Linked DNA regions of Homo sapiens. The protein of the gene in region 1 interacts with the protein of each later gene in a pairwise test. Each region holds a gene or a part of one and is shown in the gene's direction. Other genes may lie near its edges. The genes, in order: PRDM14, AKAP9, EIF4E2 and RBM10.

Region 1 (7,256 bases):
GATTTAATGATATGCATGCTGAAGTTCTTTAGTGATGAAGTATGCTGATGTCTGCAGTGACTTCTTACTACTTCTTGGTGAATACTTGGAAGTAAAGCTGTAAGGATACTTACATCTTAGCAAGTGTTCTCTGCAAGACCTGGTGTCTGCTGACATTCCAACCTCAAGCTGTCTCCTGGCACCAGTTCTGTGAATCAGCCAAGCTTCCTCCAGGCTTAAGGCCTTAGCACCAAGGGTTCTGTGGCCCTGGAGTACCACTTGTCCTCATCCCCTTCACCAAGTTCATTTCTACACATCTTTCCAATTTGATAGGTTGGGAGAACCCTCCTGTACTCCCAGCCTAGACTGAGGCTCGTTACTTGTACTACACTTTCTTCCCTCCTTATTGCAGTTCATAGTGACTCATTCATCAAGTATTCACACACATACAGACCTTCTTCATTAGGCTTTTAAGGGGATCAAGACTGCTTTGTTCACAATTGTATTCCCTATGCTTGGCTTGCTGACTGGCTCATCAATAGGCAGGCATTCAAAAGAAACTTTGTTATGTAAATGACTAAAAGGCAATTAGAATACGATTTTACTTCTTATGTGAAAGACAGGCAGCTTTAAAGAATTGGCAATACTCCCAAGGTGTGGTAGCTCACACGTGTAATCCCAGTACTTTGGGAGGCTGAGGTGGGAGGATGGCTTTACACAAGGAATTTGAGACTAGCCTAGGCAATATAGCAAGACCCCCGCCTCTACCAAAAATTAAAAGGTTAGGCGGGTGTGGTGGCACATACCTGTAGTCCTAGCTCCTGGGGAGGCTGACACAGGACAATTGCTTGAACCCAGGAGTTGGAGGCAGTAGTGAGCCGCAATCATGCTGCTGCATTCCAGACTAAGTGACAGAGTGAGGGCCTGTCTCTATGAAAGAAAAAAAAATTTAAGGCCGGGCGTGGTGGCACATGTCTGTAATCCCAGCACTTTGGGAGGCTGAGGCAGGTGGATCACTTGAACTTAGGAGTTTGACATCAGCCTGGGCAACATGGTGAAATCCCTGTCTCTACAAAAAACACAAAATTAGACAGGCTGAGATGAGAGGATCGCTTGAGCTGGGGCAGTTGAGGTGCACTGTAGCCTGGGCGACAGAGTGAGACCCTGTCTCAAAAAAAAAAAAAAGGAATGGCAATATTCGGTATTAGATGAAGCATGGAGAAATAGGCACTTGCCCTCACTGCTGGAGGAAGTATAAATTGGTATGGTTTGAAGTACTTGTTTATTTTGTATTTTTTGAGGCAGAATCTCACTCTGTCACCCAGGCTGGAGTGCAGTGGCGTGATCTTGACTCACTGCAACCTCTGCCTCCTGGATTCAAGCTAGTCTCCTGCCTCAGCCCTCCGAGTAACTGGGATTACAGGCTTGTGCCACCATGCTTGGCTAATGTTCGTATTTTTAGTAGAGATGGGGTTTCACCATGTTGGCCAGGCTGGTCTTGAACTCCTGACCTCTAGTGATCCACCCACTTAAACCTCCCAAAGTGCTGGGGTTACAGGTGTGAGCCACTGCGCCCAGTCTTGAAGTACTTGTTTAAATGATCAGTGTTTATACCTGTTGATCCAGCAACTTCACACCTGGATATTTCTTCTACAAGGCACAGTAGCACAACTATGTATCTGTATCAGTGTTTCTGTACACTGCCAGAAGTATTGAAAAACTGGCAACAACTTAAATACCTTTCAAGAGGAGGCTGATAAACTATGAGCACACCTATAAAATGGAAATTCTGTACCACGCAACCATTATAAAGAATAAATTTGCCGGTGTGGTGGCTCAGGTCTGCCATCCCAGCAATTTGGGAGGCCAAGGTGGGTGGATCCCTTGAGTTCAGTAGTTTGAGATCAGCCTGGGCAACATGGTGAAACCTGTCTCCACAAAAATATACAAAAATTAGCCGGGCTTGGTGGCGCATGACTGTAGTCCCAGCTAGTTGAGGGGAAGGGGCCGGGTGGTGAGACGGGAGGACAGCTTGAGCCCAGGAGGCAGAGGCTGCAATGAGCCAAGATCATGCCACTGTACTCCAGCCTGGGTGACAAAGTGAGACCCTGTCTCAAAATAATAATGATAATACTAAAATAAGGTTAATTCTACTATACTGATAGGGAATGATTACTAGTAGGAGCTAGGCCGTTGCAGAAACGAGTGAAGTATAATCCCATTTTTATTTTTACAAAATCCTACGTAATCCTACACAATCTAAAAGTATAGTGGGTTTTGGTTTGTTTGTTTGTTTGTTTGTTTTTAAGGAATGGGGGTAGGGAGCAAACCAAACTGTTGATCAGGATTATCTCCTAGAGTAGAAATGGGAAGCATGGATTTCAACTTTTCTTTTATCGATTTCTCCCAACTTCTTAAAACAAGCAAGTGTTATTTTAAAATAGTGTCAAATATAGTAAACTCTGGATTCTTTGCAAAACAAACCTCTAAGATAAGGTTTGATATTGCTTCCGCTAAAATAAAGCTACGACACTTCCGTGCACGAAAAAACGGCCTCTTGAGGACCTGCAACCCACAGATCACCCAGGTGCCCCCATATCATTCTTGAAATCCTACCTGTAAAGCCCAGGAGGAAGTATAGCGAATGCCAGTGGGTCTAGGAGCTCTGGGGTGAGCACGCCTCCGGAAGGAAAACGGCAACAGAATTTATTCTGCTTTTCCAAGTAAATGATCCTTCCACAGAGGCACTTGGGACAAGAGGCGACGGGTACTTTTCACGTTTTCGATCTATTGGCTAAGATCCTATCACCTCAAAACAAGGAGACGAGGAAACCCTGGGATCTTGATCCCATTTCGATTGAGAAAACAACACGCTCCTTGCGAAGCGAAACGGGGCTGGCCGCGGGCAGCGCGGAACCACGCGAAGGCGTCGGGGGCGGGCGGGCGCGGGGACCAGGGCCACCCGGTGCAGCAAAGGGGGCAAGCAGGCGGCAGGGCGCGCGGGGAGACAAGGCTGAGTGCACGCCGCCCGCGCCCTCGAAGGCTCTAGTCCCACTCCTTCCTCCCTTCTTGCAGCCCCGCCGCGCCCTGGCGAAGGCTACAGGGTCAGGTTCCCCGCACCGAGGAGCCCAGAAGCCCGGCTGCGGGCGCTCTGAAGATCCGGGACCCCGGCCTCCGTCCCCCGCCAGCTTTAGGGACTCTGGCGGCGTCTCTTAGCCGGGTAGATGTTCCTCCTTTCCCTCTCTCTTCCAAGCCGCTGCCAGGCCGGGGGTGAGGCTGCACCTCAGTCTTCAGCCCCGAAGGCCGCGCCCGGGGCGGGTCGCTCCCCATTCAGCTAAGAGGAAGCAGCGGCCGGGGGGCAGGCGAGGAACCTGTCCCGGCTCACCCGGCAAGACTGCGTTTCCCCCACCCTCGGCGCTTCTTTCTGTGAATGTGAATGGAACTAAGCGTTCCTTTCTCTCCCTCAATGGCCGGCGAGGAGAATTCAAATGCGGTCTTTGGGCGCTCGGTATGGGTCTGGACCTTGGTTTTCAGAGCCTGCGCGTCCAAGGTCGCTAGCCTTTCCCGAAGGAAGTGACAGCTGCGGCGGCGCGGGAGGCCCATCCTCGGTCGTTTAAAGCCACTTAAGGAATAAAAGCCCCCGAGAGAGCAAAACGACCACCCGAAACCTCGGAAGCGTCGGGGGTGCCGGGCCCAACGCTCCCACGTGTCACTGCCGGGGACTCGCGAGGCGAAGCTTCCCAGCGCTCAAGGCGCTCCCGCCTCGTCCCCAGGTATCAGGAACAGACACCCACCAGGTCCACCAGCGGGTCAGACGCCGCCTTCGGGCAGGCTGGGATCTTCCGAACTGGGAGCGGAGAGTAAGGGGCTCGACCCCGGGACGCGAGTCCGGCCTTCTGGACTCCGGTTCAGGGTGTGTGTGCGCGCGGAGGGGCTTATCTGGGGGCCCTGGGTAGCACACGTGTTCGGTTTTTTTCTCCCCGACTCCGCACGCCTGGAGCGGCAATACTGCCTGCCCTAGAAGGCCAGCGGCGAGTGCTCGCCACTAGGGTCCCAGGGAGGGTTTGGAAAACTGATGAGTTAAGTGAGCGACCCCAGGGGACAGAGGGCGAGTCGAGAGTCGGCCAATGGCTGCGGTGGGCGGGGAGAAGACGACGCGGGGATCTGCGTGGGCCGGGTCAATTCCCTACCCTCGACCTGTCGATGCCCCGCGGCCCCGCCCGCCCTCTTAAGCCTGGCTCAGCCCTCAGGGCCCGCCCGAAGTCTACCGAGCCCGAGTGGCCTACCGAGCCCGAGTGGCCCCGCAGCGTCCAGGAGGCGCCCGCTCCGCGGTGGCGCTCTTGGAGGTGGTGTCGGAGGTAGGCACGGGACAGGACGCGCCTGGGGCCCGGGGCGGTGGTCTTCCAGGGCCGTTGGGGAGGGCGGCAGCACTCGCTGGCGCAGTTCGTTTTGGATGGTCGTTCTGCCCTCTCGGGGGCTTTGAATCCCAAGTTGCAGATCCCTGAGGTCGGAGGAGGCTAGGAGAAGGGCGCCTTTGGAGGATCGGGAGGAGACGGGCCGCTGCCTGTGTCGTGGCTGACCTCTTCTCCTGACCCCGTGTTCTTTAATTTCTGAGTCATGACCCTGCTTGGTTTTCTTATTGGGCTCATTGATCTCAAGACCCGCCGGCCCTGAAGGGGCTTCATTCTTCAGCCTCGGTGAACTTGCTGCCTGTCTATTAAAACGCCATCCTTTCCCGGCGGTGCGGGGGCGGGAGGACTGGCAGTCGCCGAGGCTCTTCGCTCCCACCTGGCCAGGGCTCGTCCACGCGGCTCCCGAGGGGCTACCCCAGGCCCCAATAGTCCTGGTAGAATGATTGGAGTTTCCGAGGAACCCGGGGAATGTGGCGGACGCTGCCCGCGAGGGAAAAGAGGTTCAGGCGGCGCATCCTAGGGCAGCCAAAAGTGGCGCGCCCCTCCCCTGCGGGCAGTCAGGACCGCCAGGACCCGCGGGGTCACACCGCTGGGCCAGAGCAGGTCGCGGGGTCCCTGGACCTGCCCGGGGGCTCTGGGAGCGCGTCTCCATCTGCGCGGTGCGACCCAGGGTCCTCGGCTCTTCCCTCCCAGCCGAGGGCCCAGGAGCGCCTGGAGCTGTCGCTTGCTCCATTGCCCTCCGACCGCCTGCGCTCGGCTCCCGGCCCAGCCCCGAGGTTGGCAGGGCCCCGCGGCTCCCACAGACCCTACCAACGAGTTTTGTAGGACTGAGAAGAAGGAAGGAAAGGGAACTTCAATGGGTTTTGCAGGAACCGGGTTGGGGGCCGAAAGCGGAGAGCGGGTGTGGGAAGGCGGCCGGGCTTAGGGAAGGGGTGCTTGGAGAGGGAAGGGGAAGGCAACACTAACCCGGAATTTAGAGTAGGGCAGGATCCCGGCAGATTTCCGTTTGGGGCTTTTTTGTGTTTGCTTCTATTGCTGTTTTTTCGTTTTGTCTTAATTGTGGGAGCGGGCTGGCGGGATCGGACTGGGGGCGTTTATCCTGTTCCCTTGGATCTGGGGCTGGCTGGGGTGGAGGAGGCTGGTGGGGAGGCGCGGGTCGGACCCCGGGAAGCTCCCGCGCGGTGTCCTCAGCGGCGCCCGCTTTTCTGCAGAGCCGCCGAGCGTGCGGTCCCGGGATGGCTCTACCCCGGCCAAGTGAGGCCGTGCCTCAGGACAAGGTGTGCTACCCGCCGGAGAGCAGCCCGCAGAACCTGGCCGCGTACTACACGCCTTTCCCGTCCTATGGACACTACAGAAACAGCCTGGCCACCGTGGAGGAAGACTTCCAACCTTTCCGGCAGCTGGAGGCCGCAGCGTCTGCTGCCCCCGCCATGCCCCCCTTCCCCTTCCGGATGGCGCCTCCCTTGCTGAGCCCGGGTCTGGGCCTACAGAGGGAGCCTCTCTACGATCTGCCCTGGTACAGCAAGCTGCCACCGTGGTACCCAATTCCCCACGTCCCCAGGGAAGTGCCGCCCTTCCTGAGCAGCAGCCACGAGTACGCGGGTGCCAGCAGTGAAGATCTGGGCCACCAAATCATTGGTGGCGACAACGAGAGTGGCCCGTGTTGTGGACCTGACACTTTAATTCCACCGCCCCCTGCGGATGCTTCTCTGTTACCTGAGGGGCTGAGGACCTCCCAGTTATTACCTTGCTCACCCAGCAAGCAGTCAGAGGATGGTCCCAAACCCTCCAACCAAGAAGGGAAGTCCCCTGCTCGGTTCCAGTTCACGGAGGAGGACCTGCACTTCGTTCTGTACGGGGTCACTCCCAGCCTGGAGCACCCAGCCAGCCTGCACCATGCGATTTCAGGCCTCCTGGTCCCCCCAGACAGCTCTGGTAAAGGGAGTTCACACCATTTGGGAGTCGAATTGGACGGGAATGCAGGCGGGAACGGGAGTGTCCGGGAAGAGGCGCTTCCAGGTGGAGCTGAGGCTGCAGAGTGCGGGAAGGGGGAAGTACCTCCATGAGAGCCAGGGCTGTTCTAGGCTCACTTCTGAGGCCCTGCTTGCTTAACTGCATGACTAAGGTTGGTTTTAGTGAGAGCTGAGGACCAAGAGAGAAATGGTTCCTGCAGCGAACTCCCAGGTAGGTTCAGATTCTATGCTAACATGCAATGACAGCCTTCAGCAGTTCACACCTAACAGTCCCAGCTCAGCTAGCTACGCTGACCTTAGTCAGGCATTACCTCTGATCCTCAAATTCCTTGAATTTGCCTAATGGGGTTAATTACATAAACTTCCATGAGGCTGTTCTGAGTCTCAAATGAGAAATTGTATATGGAATTGTTTACAGTGAAATCGTGTATGAACAGACCATGTAAAATGAGCAGGGAAAAATAGAAACAACAAATAAATATCAAACTGGGATGATGGTTACCTTTAGGGAATTAAGGAGGGAAACACCTCATAAAAGCACTTTATAATGCATTTTTAATGAAAAATTGTTTTAACCTGCCTTTTGCTAGGATCTGATTCTCTTCCTCAAACTCTGGATAAAGACTCCCTTCAACTTCCAGAAGGTAGGCAGGACTCCTTGCATGGATTTCTTTCCCTGAACTAATGCAGAGTCAACTCTCCTCATTCTCTTTTCCTGCCTCGGCTTTCCCCTAGGTCTATGCCTCATGCAGACGGTGTTTGGTGAAGTCCCACATTTTGGTGTGTTCTGCAGTAGTTTTATCGCCAAAGGAGTCAGGTTTGGGCCCTTTCAAGGTAAAGTGGTCAATGCCAGTGAAGTGAAGACCTACGGAGACAATTCTGTGATGTGGGA
Region 2 (7,024 bases), on another chromosome or scaffold:
CTTTAAATGATCATTTTCCAAAGTTTATCTGAGACTTCATTCTGCAAATGTCTCATTTGTTCACTGGACTTAAGTATTGTATTTGATAATCTAGTTTTGCAAACCACAACTTACAAATCTTTTTGGGGGTAATTTATTGATAAACAGTTCCATTGGAAAATTCCCTTTCTGTATCTAAACCTTATAAATGATCACTTTTTAAACAGTTTGTCATGTATGCAGTATAATATATAGTATACTGTATAAAATGTTTTATACTACCCCAAATCTGTAATAATGGGTTAATAAATTATGATATGTAAAATAATTCTACAAAGACTTTTTGAGTGTGGAAAATGCCCACAAATAATGCCAGGTTAAAAAGAAAAAAGTTACCAGGAAAAGGTATATGTACATATTTAAATATGAAGACACCTGAAAAAAAGCACCAAGATGTAAATCGTGGCTATCTCTGGGTGGTGGCTTATAGGCAATTTTAATTTTCTTTATACTTTTAGTATTTTCCAAATTCTTGATACAATGTATCTCTTTTATGACCAGAAAAGAATATTCAAATGCCATTTTTTTTTTTTTTGAGACAGCCTGTCTCCCAGGCTGGAGTGCAGTGGCAGGATCTTGGCTCACTGCAGCCTCCACCTCCCAGGTTCAAGCGATTCTCCTGCCTCAGCCTCCCAAGTAGCTGGGATTACAGGCATTTACCACCACGCCTGGCTAATTTTTGTATTTTTAGTAGAGATGGGGTTTCACCATGTTGGCCAGGCTGGTCTCGAACTCCTGCCGTTAAGTGATCTGCCTGCCTCGACCTCCCAAAGTGCTGGGATTACAGGCATGAGCCACTGCACTCAGCCTCAAATGCCATTTTTTAAAAAACATAAAGGCTTATCAAATACATTATATTAAACACATGTTATAGTGTATGACCATTATCCAGAACAGGAAAATGAGGCACAGAATAACTAGGTTTCCTATTTTAGCGTAGGCCTGGAATTGTAATTGCTATTTCAGTGCAGAGTGTATAATATAGTTGGGATTATATTGTTAGACATTTTATAGATTTCCTTTCTGTTTTTGTTGTGCTTATTCTTTCCTTGCTGTTAGTTCGTATTGCTATGGGCATGCTCTTACTCCTCATCTGCCTCTTTTCCTAATTTGCTGTTTTAGATTTGCTACGACTAAGGAACCCAGAACTGAGGTTGACAGAATACTATGTAAAAAGAAAAAACAACAACAACAAAGACCTTAGGCGGGGTGTGATGGCTCACTCCTGTAATCCCAACACTGGGAGGCTGAGGTGGGAGGATCGCTTGAGCCCAGAGGTTCTAGATCAGCCTGGGCAATGTAGTGAGACCCCATCTCTAAAAAGAAAAAAGTATAAAAAACAAAACAGGTGGGGCGCAGTGGCTCACACCTGTAATCCAAGCACTTTAGGAGGTTGAGGTGGGTGGATCATCTGAGGTCAGGAGTTTGAGACCAGCCTGGCCAACATGGCAAAACCCCGTCTCTACTAAAAAATACAAAAAAATTAGCCAGGCGTGGTGGCAGGTACTAATCCCAGCTACTGGGGAGGTGGAGGCAGGAGAATCACTTGAACCCAGGAGGTGGAGGTTGCAGTGAACCGAGGTTGTGCCACTGTACTCCAGCCTGGGTGACAGAGCAAGACTCTGTCTCAAAAAACAAAACAAAACAAAAACAGAGGCCAGTGTAGCCTGCCCAGTGGGCTTTAGGGCAGTTTAGTTTTTCTGCTGCTTGTTGGTTGTTTTGGTTTACTGTTGGGTCCTCAGCTATTTCCTCAGTATTGATGTTGCAAGAAGCATGACCCTGGGAGATGTGAGACATTACTGCATTATGTATTAAGTAAATATTTTCAGAGCTGGGCTAGCTCCCTCTGCAGTGTTTTGACGAGGATGGCACTACATAGGTTGTCCTTGTGTTGAACCAAACTATTTTAACTCCATTTTAAATGACTTCATTTTTTTCCAAGTATAATTATTCATGGCACGTAAAGGAAGTATTGTAATTTAAGTGAACAGAATTAAATAGAGGACAGTTGTATATTTAATATAAAATTATTACTCATGTAAATTTGCATTAGGTATACTTTTTAAAGTTATTCAGTATTTTATATAATGGGCATTATTTGCTGAATAATTATAAAAAACTACTGTCTATTATATTCAGTAATTTGTAATTACATGACTTTTGTTTAACAAACATTTTCAGTGTGAAGAGTAGTTCCAATTGTGTACAAAAAAAAGGATGGTGCTCCATGCAAGCTGTATATTGATTATTGATAGCAGGACTTTTCAGTTACTGTTTCCACTGTGATAGACAAAGCTGGTTATGGTGTAAAACTGTTCTTTGCATATTTCAGATACTTTGTTCCACAGCTAAGAAAGTGTTTTCCCTTCCTGTTTTAAGCATTCTAGTTTTTCATACTTAGATGTGGCAGAGCTTACTTAGCATTCCGAGTAGATGCAGCAGTTTGATAGCTTCATCAACATTTATTGCAGCAATAGTGCAGTGCCTGTGACTTAAAACTAATTCATAACCTTCAGGCTTTTTTTTTTTTTGAGACGAGATCTCGCTGTGTTGTCCAGGCTGGAGTGGCAGCCTGCCTTGACCTCCTGAGCTCAAGTGATCCTCCTGCCTCAACCTCCTGAGCACCTGGGACTACAGATGTGCACCACCACACCTGGCTAATTGTTAAAATTTTTTTGTAGAGATGGGATTTCACCATGTTGCCCAGGCTGGTCTTGAACTCCTGGGCTCAAGCAATCCTCCTGCCTTAACCTCCCAAAGTGCCGAGATTATAGGGGTGACCCACTGCACCCAGCTTAGGCTTTGTCGGAATGAAGCAAAACATGGTGTTTAGAGAGAGAATGTGGAGGAAGGAACGTGATGCCCTGTCAGTGAAACTGAAAGTTGAATGATAGCTCATGGAAAGAGGAAGTGAAAAAGGTAGGATACATCCAAGTGATTGAAATATGACAAGAATGGAACAAAAATTTTTTCAAACAAAAACATCTCTTATTTTATAAATAAAAAGGTTCATAGTAAAAGCTAAACTATGTCTACAAAATATCTATTATAGGCTACTGAATATTGAAATGTAAATGAATTTCTTCTAATATAGCTAGAAAAGGTTATGGTAAATTGCTAAACAATAAGGGACATTATTTATATTCATTTCTTAGTAAGATTCCACTAAAATTAAGATTAGTCACTTTATGTAATTGCTTAACATCCATTTAAAAACTATAATTTGGAAAAGCTACGGAATTTTTCAAAACTTATTTATAAAAGTGGTTTGGTGTCTGGGGTGTGTGTGTGTGTGTGCGTGTGTGTGTGTGTGTGTGTGCTGGAGAGAGGGAGAAAGAGAATTTATAATACTGCTATCTGGTCTGGTAGAAATGGCACTAGGACTTTGGAGACATTTATGTGTTCATTTGTTCAACCAACATTTTTGAATGCCTACGACTGCAGCTATGAACTTTTACTTAGCAAGCATTTTTTTTTCCCCCCGAGATGGAGTCTCACTCTGTCACCCAGGCTGGAGTGCAGTGGCACGATCTCGGCTCACTGCAACCTCCACCTCCTGGGTTCTAGCTATTCTCCTGCCTCAGCCTCCCGAGTAGCTGGGACTACAGGCGCCCACCACCACACCCGGCTAGGTTTTTATTTTTAGTAGAGACAGGGTTTCACCATATTGGCCAGGCTGGTCTCAAACTCCTGACCTTGTGATCCGTCCACCTTGGCCTCCCAAAGTGCTGGGATTACAGGCGTGAGCAACCGCGCCCGGCCGCAAACATTTATTTAAATGATCACAAATTCTGTGCCTTATTGTCTGTTGGAATAATCTTATGATGTGTACCTCAACAGGTGTTTTGAAGGATAAATGAAATAATGGTTGGGAGCTTTTTGAGTTCTCTAGGTGCTAGATATAAAGAAGCTATAATTTTTTTTAATTGAGGTGAAATTCATAAGCAAAATTAACCATCTTTAAGTGAACTTAACACAGTGGCTTAACACAATCTTATGCAACTACTGCTTCTGTCTACTTCCCAAACATCTTTCCATCTCAAAATATAACCCTGTGCCCATTAAGCAGATATTCTTCATTGCTTCTTCCCTCTAGCCACTAACAATCACCAACGCACTCTCTGGATTTACCAGTTGTAGATATTTAATATGAAAGGAATCATATAATATGTGACCCTTTGTGTCTGGCTTCTTTCACTTAGTATGTTTTCAAGGTTCATCCATTTTGCTGCATATATCAGTACTTCATTCCTTTTTATGGCTGAATAATATTCCATTGTATGTATATACCATAATTTGTCCAATGATAGGCATTTGGGTTGTTTCTGTCTTTTGGCTATTGTGAATAGTGCTGCTGTGAACATTTGTATGGATGTATTTGAGTACCTGTTTTCATTTCTCTTGGGTATATACCTAGTAGTAGAACTGAGCAAGGTCATATGGTAGTTATATTTCAACTTTTTGAGGAACTGCCAAACTGTTTCCATAGTGACTGTACCATTTTACCTTCCCATCAGCAATGTATAGGACATTCCAATTTTCCCATAACCTCATTAACAGTTGTGTTTTCTGTTTTTTTTGTTTGTTTGTTTTGTTTTTTTGTTTTTTTAATACTCATCCTTGTGGGTATTAAGTGGTTTCTAATTGTGGTTTTGGTTTGTATTTTCCTAATGAATAATGATATTGAGTATCATCTTTTAATGCACTTTTTGGCCACTTGTAGATTTCTTTTTTTTTTTTTTTTTTTTTTTGAGATGGAGTTTTGCTCTTGTCTCCCAGGCTTGAGTGCAATGGCGCAACCTCAGCTCACTGCAACCTCCACCTCCTGGGTTCAAGTGATTCTCCTGCCTCAGCCTCCCTAGTAGATGGGATTACAGGCATCCACCACCATGCCCGATTAATTTTTTTGTATTTTTAGCAGAGATGGGGTTTCACCATGTTGGCCAGGCTGGTCTTGAACTCCTGACCTCAGGTGATCTGCCCGCCTCAGCCTCCCCAGTAGCTGTGATTACAGGCATCCACCACCATGCCCGATTAATTTTTTTGTATTTTTAGCAGAAATGGGATTTCACCATGTTGGCCAGGCTGGTCTTGAACTCCTGACCTCAGGTGATCTGCCCACCTCGGCCTCCCAAAGTGCTGGGATTACAGGCCTGAGCCACTGCGCCTAGCCCATTTGTAGATCTTCTTTAGAGAAATGTCTATTAATATCCCTTGCCCATTTTTTAATTGGGTTGTTACCAACTTCTTTTATCTAATATTAATTATATATGTATATAAAATATATATATATCCTTTCCGTATGTGTGGAGAGAGAGAGAACGTGTGCACTCAAGCACCAGAGAGGAATGGGTAGAAATACGTATCCCCAGTGGGATTATCTTCCATATATATATATTTTTAGGCTTTTTGGGCTTTGCCAAAATTTAAATTGTTGCTTCCTTTGAGTGATAGGTTCTTGGTGAGTTGATAACAGCATGATGCTGAAGCTTGATTTCTTTGTTGGCCAGTGAGTCATTCCATTCCATGAGCAGCTGTTTTACAAGTGCATGCAGTTGGTTAAAGGGGCACCTGTTGGATTTTTGGCTTGATCATTGCCAGTCCATTTACACTGTGAGAAAAAAGTAACTTAGTGTTCAAAAATGAAAAGACCTGTCATTTTAAACATGGGGGATCTGTAGCTACTTCACTAGTATGAGATGTCTTTGTTGTCATATTGACACCCCTTTTATTTTTTGTCTTAGTCATCACCAAACTGTAACTTACAACACTTAGTGCCCTTCTAGGTACATTGCATAAAGCTTTGGTTGATTTTTGCATGGGTTTAACAGTATTCAAAAGTGTTCAATATTCAGAGTATTCAAAAATTTAACATTATTTCAGGAGTAGTTTTGCTTAGGTTCTTTGTTTAAATTTATAGATTCTTTTGTAATATGTAAAATTCCTTTTTCCTCCTTGTTCACTAACAATGTAGTGTTTGTTTTCAGTTACCATCAGAGTTAAGATTCTTATTGTGGTTTACTGTTCTCTGAGATTTTTGTGTGGTGTGAAAGTTTCTCTGTAAAAGTCTAAGAGTTTTTCCCCCTTTTAAGAAATAATTTCTTAAAGCCCCCAAGATTATTGTTTTGATGATTCAGAACTATAATCAACTTTACTATACAAAGTCCTAATCTGTAAAGATTGATTTCATAGGTTCTCTGATTTACAGATCTCTGAAAAACTAATAGGGTATAAAATCTAGGCTCTCTCTCCTATTAGTACTGAACACACTATAAAATTCCTTGTTGTTTACTAGGATTGCTCATTGTGGGCTCTGTGGTTAGGCTGTATTTATTCCTCCAGGGTCTCACTTTTTTTTTTTTTTTTTTTTGAGACAGAGTCTTGCTCTGTCACCCAGGCTGGAGTGCAGTGGCACTATCTCGGCTCAGTGCAAGCTCTGCCTCCCGGGTTCACGCCATTCTCCTGCCTCAGCCTCCCCAGCAGCTGGGACCACAGGTGCACGCTGCCAAGCCCGGCTAATTTTTCTGTATTTTTAGTAGAGACGGGGTTTCACTGTGTTAGCCAGTATGGTCTCAATCTCCTGACCTCATGATCCGCCTGCCTCGGCCTCCCAAAGTGCTGGGATTACAGGCGTGAGCCACAACGTCCAGGCTAGGGTCTCACTTTTATTCAAGTTAGTATTGCCTTATTAGTTGTTTCCCCAGAGAAGATAGTGACAGGGATCAATTATAACTAAAATAGTAGTTCTCCATATGTATCATGAATCAAATTTTGTGTGTGGAGACCTTGTGGGGATTGCAGTGGGCATGGGGCAGAGATCTCAGTTAATTCTTACGCCGTTTATATCCTCTACTCCATTTCTTGAGAGCCAAATAAATTAGTAGATCTTCTTCTAAATGGCAAGATATTAGAAAATATGTTAAAACTGCATTAGGAAATATCTACTAGGAGTTTATATATGAAATAATGAGTTTTGGCTGAAAGT
Region 3 (7,024 bases), on another chromosome or scaffold:
CCTACAAAATGGGAGAAAATATTGCAAATCATATCTAATACTTGTATCTAGAATACTCTTACAACTCAGTTATAATCTGCTTAATATGAAATCAACATCATTACTATGCTGAGCTGATAAAATTTCAGCCTAAAGCAAAGATCTTGTTTAGTTTGCCAGTGCTATCTTAGAATCAGCAAACTTAGGGGTTTTGTAATAATAAACTACCTTGTGCACTGGTTCATATTTGGTTCAATAAATGCTTGTTGAATGAATTCAAGGCTCTAGTAGGCTTCTAAAAGGAATGAAGGCACAGATCCTGTCCTTGGGGAAATAAGATGTGCCCAGGAATTTCTAATACAGGGAAGACAGTAAGTGATACTATGGGAAAGGCATTTAGAGTGCTCTTGGAGTTTGGAGGAAAGAAGGAATTGATTCCAGTTTGGGGAATACTGCCTTGGAAGAGATGGGTTTAAGATTGATTTTAAAGAATTTGGCCAGGCCTGGTAGCTCATGCCTGTAATCCCAGCACTTCGGGAGGCCAAGGTGGGAGGATCGCTTGAAGCCAGGAGTTCAAAACCAGCCTGGGCAACATAGTGAGATCTTATCTCAAAAAAAGATTTTTTTGGAGTAATTATGCATACTTCTTGCATTTTTATTTCCCTCTTGTGAAAAAAAAAAGCATATAAGAATTTACCCAAATTGTACGAGGAGGGTTTTTCTTTTGTTTCAGTGTATATGTTAAGGAGTGGTTTATCATCAGGACTATCTTGGGTTAAGGCTTCATCCATGCTCACTGGATGTGTGACAGTATTTAAAGTCTGTCATTTTGACTCTGTAGGTCTGGACCTGAAAAATAGAAATAAAGTCTGTTGTGTAATTCAGGTCACTAGGAAATGGCTCACAATATTAAATGCATCACAGATAAATAATTACATTATGAATCCTTTTATCAAATTGAAAGCAGTGTTTCCCAGTGATTCTTAGCCTAATCATTAACAACATTTAAAAGTTCTTGAAGTCAGAGTGACTAGGAAGGCATCATCTTGAAATGGAAAGAGCACTAGACTTGGTAATCAGAGCTCACCTATTCTGATGCTTGACCCTCTTGGTTAGAGCAACTCAGTCCTGAAACCTTTCTCAACTATAAAACAAGTTGCTGACATGATTTCTGAGGTCCTTTCGGCACCTCATATTCTGAGTCTGTGAATGCTTATTTTTTTTTTTGGTTTCAATTAGAACTGTCAAATCTTTTAAAGTTTAATAATATTTCTCAGGCCAGGCACAGTAGCTAATGCCTGTAGTCCCAGCACTCAGGGAGGCCAAGGAGGGAGGATCACTTGAATCCAGGACTTCAAGACCAGCCTGGCAACAGTGTTAGACTTCATCTCTACAAAAAAAGTAAAAAAATAGCTGGGCATGGTGGTGCCCACTTGTGGTCCCAGCTACTCAGGAGGCTGAGGCAGGAGGATTGCTTGAGCCTGGGAAGTCGAGGCTGCAGTGAGCCATGATCACACTGCTGCACTCCAGCCTGGGTAACAGAGCAAGACCCCATCTCAAATGATGAATGAATGAATGAATGATAGTCTCGAGCTGTTTAACTTCATCTCTCTTATGGTTTGCATATAAGATTGTGCAGTGGGGCTGGGCGCGGTGGCTCACGCCTGTAATCACAACACTTTGGAAGGCCAAGGCAGGTGGATCACCTGAGGTCAGGAGTTCGAGACCAGCCTGGCTAACATGGTGAATGGTGAAACCCCATCTACTAAAAATACAAAAATTAGCCAGGCGTGGTGGTGTGTGCCTGTAGTCCCAGCTACTCGGGAGGCTGAGGCAGGAGAATCACTTGAACCCAGAAGGCAGAGGTTGCAGTGAGCTGAGGCAGGCTGCACCATTGCACTCCAGCCTGGACAAAAAGAGCGAAACTCCATCTCAAAAAAACAAACAAAAAAAAGATTGTGCAGTGTAGTTGTAAGATTGGGGAGACCAAACTGTTAAAGCGATTATTGACTGGGGAACTGGAGATGGTTGACATACTTTGTCCTCACCAAGCCCCTTTCAGTTCCTTATTCACAATGAGCCACTAGTGGGTGTACTTGGTTCTAGTGGGTATATGTGGTTTTATTCAACTATGTTAGGGTGGATAAAGGTTTACATTATTGCCGATTGTATTCATATGACCATTTACTATTCCGAGTCACTACATGCAGCTAAGCTTAGCAGTTGCTGAGTATAAAGCACTGCCTTGAAGCCCTATAGATGGCGTTAGTTCTGACTTCTTTTTACCATGTAAGATGCATCACGTGTGCTTGTGCTAGAGAGGAACTAAAGGGACAGCCATTTCACGCAGTGTAAGGCTGATTTCTCCTTAGGTGCTCCCCATATCTAGAAGTATGACCTGAATCTTTGTCTACTCGATACCCATTGTCAGCTCCACAGTTGTGGTATCTTGCTGTATGTTGATTTAGAGCCTGCTCAGCAGTTTAGCAGATACCAGCTATTTCTCATTGGAATGTTCCGTGTTTTCTCTTTCCTCCTAAAGTGTGCCTCTTCACTGGCCAGTACTTACTACGTATCCTCTGTGAATAAGGAAATAATCTTTCCTATCAAGACACTAGTGAACCTGTAGTCCCAGCTACTTGGGAGGCTGAGATGGGAGGATCCCTTGACACCAGGAGTTAGAGGCTGTGATGAGCTATGATCATACTGCTGCGTAGACCCTGTCTCTTTTTTTTTTCTTTTTTTTTAAGGGGAGGGGGGGTGACACTAATGAGAAAAACAGGACTACTGTGATGAATACAAATAAGCATATACTTGATGGAAAAATATAAATCTAGTTTTCTCACGGGATTGTGAAGGAGCGGCAAGGAGAAACATAATTTTTCTAGCTAAGAAGAGGGCCTTAAACCCTAGCTATGAGAAGCTAAGTCCTGTATGATTTTGGATTGGCCTGGACTTAGCAACAGCACCATGATGTAGAGTGGTATGTGTGGTACATGTGGTTGATTCTATCACTTACGCTTAGTAACTAAACAGGTCTAAGAGGTATTTACATGTGGTTGATTCTATCACTTATGCTTACTAACTAAACAGGTCTAAGAGGTATTTCATTCAGCAAATGCTATATTTGCCAGTTAAACAATCTTTCATCGGTAAGTGATTTGGTTCTAAAAAATGCATTCAGGCTGAGGCTGTGTGACACTTACATACCTCAAGGCTAAAGAGTTTCCATTGTGCAAAAACCTGGTCCTCTTACTGCATGTGATGACTACCCTGCAGCTTGAGTGGGAGAGTGCGTATTAACATGGTTTCACCAACTAAAGCTCCTGGCTGAGGCTTGCATTTCTCACCAAAGATTTTATTCTTGAATTGCGAATGTTACATTTTTTATTTTGTCAAACTAGATGGTATGTTTTTCCTCTAATATGTCTTCCCTCACAACACCACACATGAAAATGAGTCCTCTGAAAAGGACAGCCTGTAGTATAGTGTCTTCCATGCTTATGTTCTTAACTAAATCTCAACCTTGGGATGCATTCAAAGAAAAGTAAAAGACACATGTTTTTTACTCTGGGGTCTTCTCTCTGCAGGTGGAGCAGTTCTGGAGGTTTTATAGCCACATGGTACGTCCTGGGGACCTGACAGGCCACAGTGACTTCCATCTCTTCAAAGAAGGAATTAAACCCATGTGGGAGGTAAGGACTAATGGCTTCTGACTGCTTTTTTGAGCAAGTTTGGGTTTTTTTGTTTTGTCTCTTAGCCCTGCCAAGGTTAAAAGTATTTTATTTTATTTTATTTTATTTTATTTTATTTGAGACGGAGTGTCGCTCTGTCACCCAGGCTGAGCGCAGTGGCGCGATCTCGGCTCACTGCAAGCTCCGCCTCCCAGGTTCACGCCATTCTCTTGCCTCAGCCTCCCTAGTAGCTGGGACTACAGGCGCCCACCACCGCGCCCGGCTAATTTTTTGTGTTTTTTAGTAGAGACGGAGTTTCACCGTGTTAGCCAGGATGGTCTCGATCTCCTGACCTCGTGATCCGCCCGCCTTGGACTCCCAAAATGCTGGGATTACAGGCGTGAGCCACCGTGCCCAGCTGGTTAAAAGTGTTTTAAAGTCTCTCAAAACTGCATCACTCTCCAGTATATCCTTGGAACCCGAGCCTCTAGAGAAATGCACTGATGCCATTTTTTGTCTGTGTGGGTTGGTGCTGGGTGTTTTTTAAAGACTGTTTTATGACTAAAATGGTATTAGAACATTAAAGGATTTTTGTTTTCAGTTACCTTTATCCTTATAGAACTTGTTTGTGCGTGTGTGTAATATTTTTACATAGTACACATATGATTAAAGTGGGTAAGAAAATAAGTTTAAAGGCAGGAACTGGAGACCTAGAACTTTGCAGAGCCAGTATTCGGCTGCGCCCTGGTGTAGTGCATCTTCTATTCTGGTGCCATGGCATTTTTCGAGAAGACAAATGTGGTCACATCCACGCCACCCATCTTATACAGCTCCTCATTGCTCACATGATCTTGCACCTCATTTACCTTTCAAGCCTCATCTCCCATCATCTCTAAATCTTCCCTTCCCTGCAGGTGGACCCTCCTGTCAGTTTATGCACAGACATGTTCTTCCCAGTGCCCGCAGTGCCCTTCAGCTGCTTTTCCTGACTCACTCCCGTTGACCTTAAGACCCACTTCTTGGCAGGGCATGGTGGCCCATGCCTGTAATCCCAGCACTTTGGGAGGTCGAGGTGGACAGATCACCTGAGGTCAGGAGTTTGAGGCCAGCCTGGCCAACATGGTGAAACCCCGTCTCTACTAAAAATACAAAAATTAGCCAGGTGTGGTGGCACGCGCCTGTAATCCCAGCTACTCGGGAGGCTGAGACAGGAGACTCACTTGAACCCAGGAGGTGGAGGTTGCACTGAGCCAAGATTGTGCCACTGCACTCCAGCCTGGGTGACAGAGCGAGACTCCATCTCAAAAAAAGAAAAGAAAAAAAAAGACCCACTTCTTGACTGTTTCCAACTATCTTGTTCTTCCTTAACATAGTGTGCATATCTGTTAACAGCAGCACTTATAATTATAGTATCATTGCTGTAATTAATATCCTTGGCTGTCTCTTCTACTGGACTGGATCTGAGTAGAGATTGGGGCTTCAGCCAGGCGCAGTGGCTCACTCCTGTAATCCCAGCACTTTGGGAATCCGAGGCAGACAGATCACGAGGTCAAGGGTTCGAGACCAGCCTGGCCAATATGGTGAAACCCTGTCTCTACTAAAAATACAATAATTAGCCGGGTGTGGTGGCATGTGCCTGTAGTCCCAGCTACCCAGGAGGCAGAGACAGGAGAATCGCTTGAACCCAAGAGGCAGAAGTGGCAGTGAGCCGATATCGCACCACTGCACTCCAGACTGGGTGACAGCGGGAGACTCCATCGCAAAAAAGAAAAAAAAAAAAACTAGATTGGGGCTTCATGTCTGTGTACTTGGTATGTAGTGACAGTCAGTACTTTTTTTTGTCGTCGTTGTTGTTTTGTTTTGTTTTGTTTTTTGAGACGGAGTCTTGCTGTGTTTCCCAGGCGGGAGTGCAGTGGCACGATCTCGGCTCCCTGCAAGCTCTGCCTCCCGAGTTCACGCCATTCTCCCGCCTCAGCCTCCCGAGTAGCTGGGACTACAGGCGCCCACCACCATGCCCGGCTAATTTTGTTTTTGTATTTTTAGTAGAGACGCGGTTTCACCGTGTCAGCCAGGATGGTCTCGATCTCCTCACCTCGTGATTCGCCCACCTCAGCCTTCCAAAGTGTTGGGATTACGGGCGTGAGCCACTGCGCCCAGCAGACATTCAGTACTTTTAGCAAGTAAACGGATGATCTGTGCTTGAAATATGACATCATTTCGTTTTGATTCCTAAAGTATTTCCAGTAAAGGGGATTATTTTTAAAAGGTCTGTTTAGCCATTTTAATAAATGGCTTATGCCAAGGATCCCAGCCTTGTTTTTCTTTTTTTCCCCATTTCTTCTCTCCCTAGTCCTACCATCAGTTTTTCTATAGAGTTGAATAATTGGAAAGTGATATGACTTCTTAGTGTTTAAGAGATTCTTGGCTTTTTACTGCCTTCATACAAAAAAAGGCTGTGAAACCATATTTTAACTTCAGTGCTTTCTGTCTTTTTACAGGATGATGCAAATAAAAATGGTGGCAAGTGGATTATTCGGCTGCGGAAGGGCTTGGCCTCCCGTTGCTGGGAGAATCTCATTTTGGCCATGCTGGGGGAACAGTTCATGGTTGGGGAGGAGATCTGTGGGGCTGTGGTGTCTGTCCGCTTTCAGGTAAGCCACCCATGAGCCAGGCTGGTTTCTTGTGTTGCCTTTGCTCTCCTCGCTGCCCCTGATTTGCTTTGATGATTCCTTCTGTTCCTCTGGTAGGAAGACATTATTTCAATATGGAATAAGACTGCCAGTGACCAAGCAACCACAGCCCGAATCCGGGACACACTTCGGCGAGTGCTTAACCTACCTCCCAACACCATTATGGAATACAAAACTCACACCGACAGCATCAAGTACGTGTTGGGGGGTTATGGGAGGACGTGTCCCTAAGCTTAGTATAAGTAGATCTGTAGTTGGGCCCAGAGGAATATGGCCGGACAGGAGACTTACTTGTGGAGAAGGGACAGACCAGGCCTTCCCTCTAGGGCTTCTGGCTACTTGCTGCAGTTCTTTGTCAGCGAGGCTCCCTGCCACCTATACTACCAGGTGCTTTGTAGCAGAGAGAGCCCATCTGCAGAAACCCAGTTGTACTACCTGGGCTTGCTTAATTTCTACAGGCTGTCTTGTCTTTCATATGCTAACCACTATCTTAAAATGAAAGACAAGTGCTTTTCTTTTTCTTGCTGTTTTTTAAGATAATTTCACCCTGCCCACCCTCACCCCACTTCTGCATGTCTTTTTAACTTGTTAGCTTCAGTCTATTTTCTTTGTCCTGGGATACTGACTACTTATCAGGAATGACTCCATTTCCTTGTGTATAGAGCTGACTCTTAGAAGAAG
Region 4 (7,024 bases), on another chromosome or scaffold:
CTGTCCGGCAAGCGTCGGTCAGCCGAACACTGTGTGCCTGGTGGTGTGTGTTCACATGTGTGCGTGCGTGTGCCCGGCAGAGCAGCAAACAGCTGCGCCCGAGAGCTGTGGCGCTTTCCCTCCCTACCTCCCTTCTTCCCTCCATCCGCTCTCCGACCTCCCTCCGTTCCCTGTCCCTCATCCATCCAGCTGAAGGGCTCGCTCACTCTCTTCTCCTATGCTGAAACGGTGCGTGGGGCACTGCTGCCTGGACCTCACTGTGCTCTGCTTTTTCCCGCAGCACTCCCTCAACATCCTGGGCCAGAAGGTGTCGATGCACTACAGTGACCCCAAGCCCAAGATCAATGAGGACTGGCTGTGCAATAAGGTACAGGGGCGGTGGGCAGCAGTTGTCATGGACAGAGACAGCAACAGCAGTGGCGGCGATCTCTCCCTTCCTCTCCCGCTCTTTCTCCCTCCATCTCTCCCCCTCCCCCAATCTCTCCTCTCCCTCTGTCTCTCTCTCTCTCTCTCTCTCTCTCTCTCATTCTCTATCCCTTGCTAGCTCAGCTTGAGTAGTCACCATTCCTAGCCAGCCATATACAAATGTGTAGTGAGCGTTCACTTGGTGCAGGCTCTGTCCTCCTAAAATGCAGTCTTGCCTGGAGTTCCAGTAGACTTTAAGGAAATATATACGTGGATGATGAATTAGTGACAGTGTAGACTTGAAGTGGTGGTGTGGAGAATGTGGGCTTCAGAGCCAGACTGGCTGAAATGAGACTATCCCAGATCGGCCTTGATTTTGGCCAAGGTGCTTAGCCTCTCTTTGCCTCACTTTCCCCATCTCTAAAATGTGAATATTAATGACACCTCTCCCAAAAGGTGGTTGGGAGGATTCAGCTGTGTTAATGAGAGAGTAACACTCAGAACAGTGCCTGGCCCACATTTAACACAGTCGAATTGTTAACTGTAATCATGAAAGAAAAGCACAGAGCGTTCTGAGAGCCCATAGCAGGTAGCTCAAGCCTGAAGGCCACTCTGACCAGGCCAAGTCAAACCTGAAACTGGAGGCTGTGGTTTTGTAGTCACCTCTGTCTTCCCTGAGGGGAAGCTGAGGCTCAGAGAGGTGGAACCATGGGTGAACCTTTAGCTGTGCCCTGTGCCTTGCTCCTGATCACAGGGACTTGGATGCCACAGTGGCTTCAGGTCTGCCCTGGGGCCAGCATTGTGATTCCACAGTTTGTAGAGGCCCCAACCCTCTCCCCAGGAAGTACTCTGCCTAGTCAGGGAGAGTGGTGCATCTGTTTTAAAAAAAAAAGTCCCATCAGAGGATTGGTGCTTAACATTTCTGGAGAGATAAAGACAAAGTGACAGTGGAACTCCTTCCTGTGTTTCCAGATAGCCTCAAAACCAGGGAATTCTCTTTTTTTTTTTTTTGAGACAGGATCTGGCTCTGTCGCCCAGGCTGGAGTGCAGCAATCTGGGCTCACTGCAACCTCTGTCTCCAGCGCTCAAGCCATCAGCCTCCAGAGTAGCTGGGACCACAGGCGCATGCCACCACACCCACTAATTTTTGCCTTTTTATTTTTATTTTTTTTGGTAGAGACAGGGTTTCGTCATGTTTGCCAGGCTGGTCTTGAACTCCTGAGCTCAAGCAGTCCTCACGCCTCAGCCTCCCAAAGTGCTGGGATTACAGGCGTGAGCCACCACGCCCAGCCCAAAACCAGGGAATTCTCTTGAACTCCTTCCCCTCCCCTGCATCCTGTTGGCCACCAGGTCCTGTCACTTCCATCACAGAAACGCCACCTTCCCTCCCTCGCCATTCCCGCTGCTCATGCCAATCGTCACGCTCTCACCCACTCACTGTGGAGCCCTCTCTGGTATGCTGGCCTCTTGTCCTCTTTCTCCCACGCCCTCACCTGGAACATTCCTCAAAACCACCTCTGACTACCCACGCCTCTCCTCCTCTGCTTAACCAGCCCCAGCTCAGCTTAAGCATAAGATCCTCCATTACCTAACTGGCTTCCTTCCCCGGCCTTGGCTTTTGCTTCTCCCCTTACTCTCCCACACCAGTTTCGGAAAGTCCATTGTTCCCTCCGATAACAATCCCTCCCCAGCAAGGCTTAACAAAATGAAACTTCTGGGCATCCCAGGTCAAACCTCCCTGCTTCTGTGCAGGGACTGTCCCTGCCGAGTAAATGGCACCCCACCCCCAGCCCATTTCCCTCCCCGAGCCCCTGCTGGATGGTCCATGCAGACCGACCTGCCCCTCTTCATGCTGCATCTGCCCCTGTGCTATTAGGCCATGAGGGCAGAGACCATGTTCTGGCCATGTGCAGCAGGGCCTGGCCCAGGAGTGGTGCTTAGTACCTGAGTCTGGAACAGAGATGGAGTGTGGTAGAAGCTGGGTCTCCAGATGCTGGAACATTCAAGGAAAATTTCTCAAGCGTAGCAGGATCCAACCCAGTCCTAGAGCTAAGAGGAGGGGTGCGGGTCTGGCTACTGACTTCTAGGGCTGAAACACTGAAAGGTTTCTGAATAGAGGAGCAAGTTTCAGGGAGAGGAACCTAATAAAGGGATTGAATACCTGAGGCGGGGAACAGTCCTGGGAGTTGGTGGCCTTAAGAAGGCAGAGGAAGGAGAGGAGGGAGTTGTTGTACCAAATGGGGGAGTTGTTTATTCCTGAGCTGAGTGGGTTGGCACAGAGGACAAATGAGAGTCTGGAAAGGGAAGATGCACAGTACTGAGAACAACATCAGAAGGTTCAGAAGGCACCTGCCACCATTGCCTAGGGGCTTTCCTTCCTGGGGCACTGCGGGGTCCCTGGGAGATCTCTTCATCCAAGTTTGGAGGGTGCAGTGGGAAATCCCTGCTCCCTCTGACGGCCTGGCCTGTGCCTCACAGTGTGGCGTCCAGAACTTCAAACGCCGAGAGAAGTGCTTCAAATGTGGCGTGCCCAAGTCAGGTGAGGCCCACCTACCTCTCGTGCTCTCCAGGGCGGAGCGGTTGGGGAGAAGGGAAGGGTGAGGGGTCTGTGCTCAGGGCTTGGTATAGGGAGGAGGGTGACCAGTCGTGGAGCCTTCCCCTTATCACCAGCCTGTCTCCCACTGCCCCTGACAGAGGCAGAGCAGAAGCTGCCCCTCGGCACGAGGCTGGATCAGCAGACACTGCCACTGGGTGGCCGGGAGCTGAGCCAGGGCCTGCTTCCCCTGCCGCAGCCCTACCAGGCCCAGGGAGTCCTGGCCTCCCAAGCCCTGTCACAGGGCTCGGAGCCAAGCTCAGAGAACGCCAATGACAGTGAGTCAGTTGTTCCTTCTTCCTCTGTGCCCTAGGGTGTCGGGCTGGGCTCACCAAGACCAGAGAAATGGCAGTGAGCAGGACCTCATCCTCATGGAATCTCCACTTGGTGCGGGGATAGACATTTGATGTAGGGAGAACAGGGGGAGTGGCAACATCCCACCTGACTTTGGGGGTGTGTCGGGAAGGTTCTCAGCAGACAGGCAGCCAGGCTGGCACCTGGACCGCCAAGCAGAGTTGATCCTGGAGGAAGCAGTGAGGGAAGCGGCAGTTGCAAAGGCACGGAGTGAGTGGGGGCAGAGGAAAGGGAGCAGTGGGGGCATTGAAGGGCAGGGCTGGCAAGAGTGCCAGGGGTGTCCTCTAACATTGGGCCCCTTCCCACAGCCATCATTTTGCGCAACCTGAACCCACACAGCACCATGGATTCCATCCTGGGGGCCCTGGCACCCTACGCGGTGCTGTCCTCCTCCAACGTGCGCGTCATAAAGGACAAGCAGACCCAACTGAACCGCGGCTTTGCCTTCATCCAGCTCTCCACCATCGTGGTGAGGGCGGCACAGTTGGGGGCCGGGCAGCCAGGGTCCCGGCCCCCGGGGTGGAGACGAGGGTCCTTTTCCCCAGCCTCCCACCGCGGCTGCCAGCCTGGAAATCGGGCAATGGAGCCGGGGGCCTCCCCGGGCCTGACCCTTCTGTCCCTGCCTCCCCTCCTCCCACAGGAGGCAGCCCAGCTGCTGCAGATCCTGCAGGCCCTGCACCCACCACTCACTATCGACGGCAAGACCATCAATGTTGAGTTTGCCAAGGGTTCTAAGAGGTCAGGGCCCCACCTGTGTGCCTTCCCACCCTTCCCCTCCCCACCCTCCCACTCCCCCCTACCGCTTGGGGCCTCCTATCTCACTCCCAGTCTCTAACATCCTCCTCAGGGACATGGCCTCCAATGAAGGCAGTCGCATCAGTGCTGCCTCTGTGGCCAGCACTGCCATTGCTGCGGCCCAGTGGGCCATCTCACAGGTACTCAGACCCCTTGTGCCTCCCAGCGTCCTGAGACCTGGGCTTTCTCAACCCTCCTGCACCCTCTCTGAAGCAGGAAGGCTGGCTTGCTATCCATGGATGCAAAACCCTCTCCCAGTAGCTGGCATGGCTATTCTACCTTGCTCCTGGCTCTCTAGACCCCCTGGGACATTCCCCTTCATCATCACCGCAGCTTTCTTCCCAATTGCCTCCCATGCGCTCATGTACGACGCCATTGTGCCTGGCATTCTGTGCTGTTTGGTGGGGTTTTTATTGTCCTGAATAGGTATGATATACACATATCCTTATATGTAATATATACATATATGATATACACGTATCATATGTTCCTGAATAAAAATAACGTATAAGTGGTTGAGAGAAAATTGGGAGAAGAGAATAAAGAAGTAAGAAGATGGTGTCTTCCTTGGCCTGACACCCAACACACACGCCACACACAGCAGAATCAGCAGAATCAGCCCTGGAACATTTTGGCGTTCATCTGTTTTTCTGTCTTGTGTTTGCCACTGGCCTATTTGTTCTCTTGTGGCCAGGCAACCCTCGCTTTCCACTTGTCTTAAGGCTGCATGCTTTGTCTGTCAGGTAGAAATACTAGCCCCACGTGTGGGACAGATGCTTCTAGCAGGTTCCCCACCCCCCACCCCCACACCTTCCTGTTCTAATGAACCCCTCCCACCTGCCCTTCAGGCCTCCCAAGGTGGGGAGGGTACCTGGGCCACCTCCGAGGAGCCGCCGGTCGACTACAGCTACTACCAACAGGATGAGGGCTATGGCAACAGCCAGGGCACAGAGTCTTCCCTCTATGCCCATGGCTACCTCAAGGGCACCAAGGGCCCTGGCATCACTGGAACCAAAGGGGATCCCACTGGAGCAGGTGAGCCCCAGCATCTCTCTCTGCAGCTGTGGTGGGGGCCAGCAGGCATAAAGTCCCCGGCCCCATTATTCACAGGCATTGTCCCTGCCCTGTCCCTCCTTACAGGTCCCGAGGCCTCCCTAGAGCCTGGGGCCGACTCTGTGTCGATGCAGGCTTTCTCTCGCGCCCAGCCTGGTGCTGCTCCTGGCATCTACCAACAATCAGCCGAGGCGAGCAGTAGCCAGGGCACTGCTGCCAACAGCCAGGTGAGTGAGCCCTGTGGGTATGTATCCCGGGGAGGCAGGCAGGCGGCAGGGGTGGCATGGGCAGACACTGAGCCCTGTTCTCCTGTCTGGCCCCATGACCAGTCGTATACCATCATGTCACCCGCTGTGCTCAAATCTGAGCTCCAGAGCCCTACCCATCCTAGTTCTGCTCTCCCACCGGCTACCAGCCCCACTGCCCAGGAATCCTACAGCCAGTACCGTGAGTAGCCACAGCCTGTGGGTAGGGGTGGGGAGTTCTTAATAAAGCAGGGAATAGTGTGACCCCGTTCCCCTCACCCCCTAGCTGTTCCCGACGTCTCTACCTACCAGTACGATGAGACCTCCGGCTACTACTATGACCCCCAGACCGGCCTCTACTATGACCCCAACTCCCAGGTAATAGGGCAGCCCAGGGAGGGATGGGATCGGGTCAGGTCGCGTCAGGAACAGCTAGCCCTGCAGGTTCCCTTCACAAGGTCTTCCCTCACATCCCCTCTTCCCTCCTCCTCCCTCAGTATTACTACAATGCTCAGAGCCAGCAGTACCTGTACTGGGATGGGGAGAGGCGGACCTATGTTCCCGCCCTGGAGCAGTCGGCCGACGGACATAAGGAGACAGGGGCACCCTCGAAGGAGGGCAAAGAGAAGAAGGAGAAGCACAAGACCAAGACAGCTCAACAGGTGAACACCAGGGTCCAGCAGTCACTGGCTGGCTGTGTGGTGTCTTCCAGCAACGGCACTCTGTCAGCTCTTGCCCTCTCCTGCCAAGGGAGATGGCGGGCAGGTGTGGATGTGGGCAGTGACTGCTTAGCAGACCATGCTCTTGCCCCAGCTCTGCTCTTTGCTGAATGGCCTTGAGCCAGAGCAGTCTCCTCAGTGTGTGGCAGGGTTGCCCAACTCCAGGAGGTGGCTTGTGCCATCCGAGTGAGCCCTGTCAGGTGTCTTCTGTCCCATGGTGGGGACCCTCACATTCTGCTGGTGAATATACATGTATGCCAGAGAAATTCTCACAGGCCATAAGGGGGTGGGCAGGAAAAAAGCCCTGCAATGTTTTGTGGGAGTGGGCAGATGGAGGGCACCTCAGTGTCTCTCTGTGGAGAAAGGGTGTGACACTGTGAGCGTAGCGTTTACAAGCAAGCACTAAGTGTTACCTTAGCAACCTGATGAATTCTAAAAATGGTGCTGTGCTGGGGGGAACATGGAAATATAGAATGTGGCATTGTGTCATGCATATAAAGTTATACACAAATAAACATTCCTATGCATTTTTAAATGATAAAATGGAAATGCACAACAAATGTGACAGCGTGGGTGTATGTCAGGGGAAGAGGAGTGTCTTCATCCATTTGCTGCTCCATAACAATACCACAGACTGGGTAATTTATAAGGAAAAGAGATTGATTTGGCTCACAGTTCTGTAGGCAGGGAAGCCCAGTGGTGTTGGCATCTGGTGAGGGCCTTCTTGCCGCATCATAACATGGCAAAGGGCAAGAGAGCATGCATGAGAGCAAGAGAAAATTGGGCCAAACTCCCCCTTTTTATCTGGAACCCACTCAGTGATGGCATTAAATGGAGACTCAAAAGGTGGAGGGGGGCCG

Evidence for each region.
Region 2: the proteins of PRDM14 (region 1) and AKAP9 interact in binary tests that used the Homo sapiens proteins (3 or more experiments, as listed by UniProt).
Region 3: the proteins of PRDM14 (region 1) and EIF4E2 interact in binary tests that used the Homo sapiens proteins (3 or more experiments, as listed by UniProt).
Region 4: the proteins of PRDM14 (region 1) and RBM10 interact in binary tests that used the Homo sapiens proteins (3 or more experiments, as listed by UniProt).

Annotation. Positions count from the first base shown.
Region 1 is NC_000008.11:70,068,231-70,075,486, reverse strand, and holds the start of PRDM14 (PR domain zinc finger protein 14), read left to right. Parts: upstream 1-4,234; 5' UTR 4,235-4,337; intron 4,338-5,602; 5' UTR 5,603-5,626; coding exon 5,627-6,326; intron 6,327-6,954; coding exon 6,955-7,008; intron 7,009-7,099; coding exon 7,100-7,256. UniProt on the Homo sapiens protein: Transcription factor that has both positive and negative roles on transcription. Required for the maintenance of embryonic stem cell identity and the reacquisition of pluripotency in somatic cells.
Region 2 is NC_000007.14:91,943,839-91,950,862, forward strand, and holds part of AKAP9 (A-kinase anchor protein 9), read left to right. Parts: intron 1-7,024. UniProt on the Homo sapiens protein: Scaffolding protein that assembles several protein kinases and phosphatases on the centrosome and Golgi apparatus. Required to maintain the integrity of the Golgi apparatus. Required for microtubule nucleation at the cis-side of the Golgi apparatus.
Region 3 is NC_000002.12:232,560,678-232,567,701, forward strand, and holds part of EIF4E2 (eukaryotic translation initiation factor 4E type 2), read left to right. Parts: intron 1-3,569; coding exon 3,570-3,674; intron 3,675-6,151; coding exon 6,152-6,304; intron 6,305-6,400; coding exon 6,401-6,537; intron 6,538-7,024. UniProt on the Homo sapiens protein: Recognizes and binds the 7-methylguanosine-containing mRNA cap during an early step in the initiation. Acts as a repressor of translation initiation.
Region 4 is NC_000023.11:47,176,220-47,183,243, forward strand, and holds part of RBM10 (RNA-binding protein 10), read left to right. Parts: intron 1-280; coding exon 281-367; intron 368-2,883; coding exon 2,884-2,944; intron 2,945-3,099; coding exon 3,100-3,276; intron 3,277-3,326; exon of another isoform or gene 3,327-3,562; intron 3,563-3,660; coding exon 3,661-3,821; intron 3,822-3,992; coding exon 3,993-4,090; intron 4,091-4,199; coding exon 4,200-4,287; intron 4,288-4,995; coding exon 4,996-5,182; intron 5,183-5,287; coding exon 5,288-5,427; intron 5,428-5,529; coding exon 5,530-5,647; intron 5,648-5,731; coding exon 5,732-5,823; intron 5,824-5,942; coding exon 5,943-6,107; intron 6,108-7,024. UniProt on the Homo sapiens protein: Binds to ssRNA containing the consensus sequence 5'-AGGUAA-3'. May be involved in post-transcriptional processing, most probably in mRNA splicing. Binds to RNA homopolymers, with a preference for poly(G) and poly(U) and little for poly(A).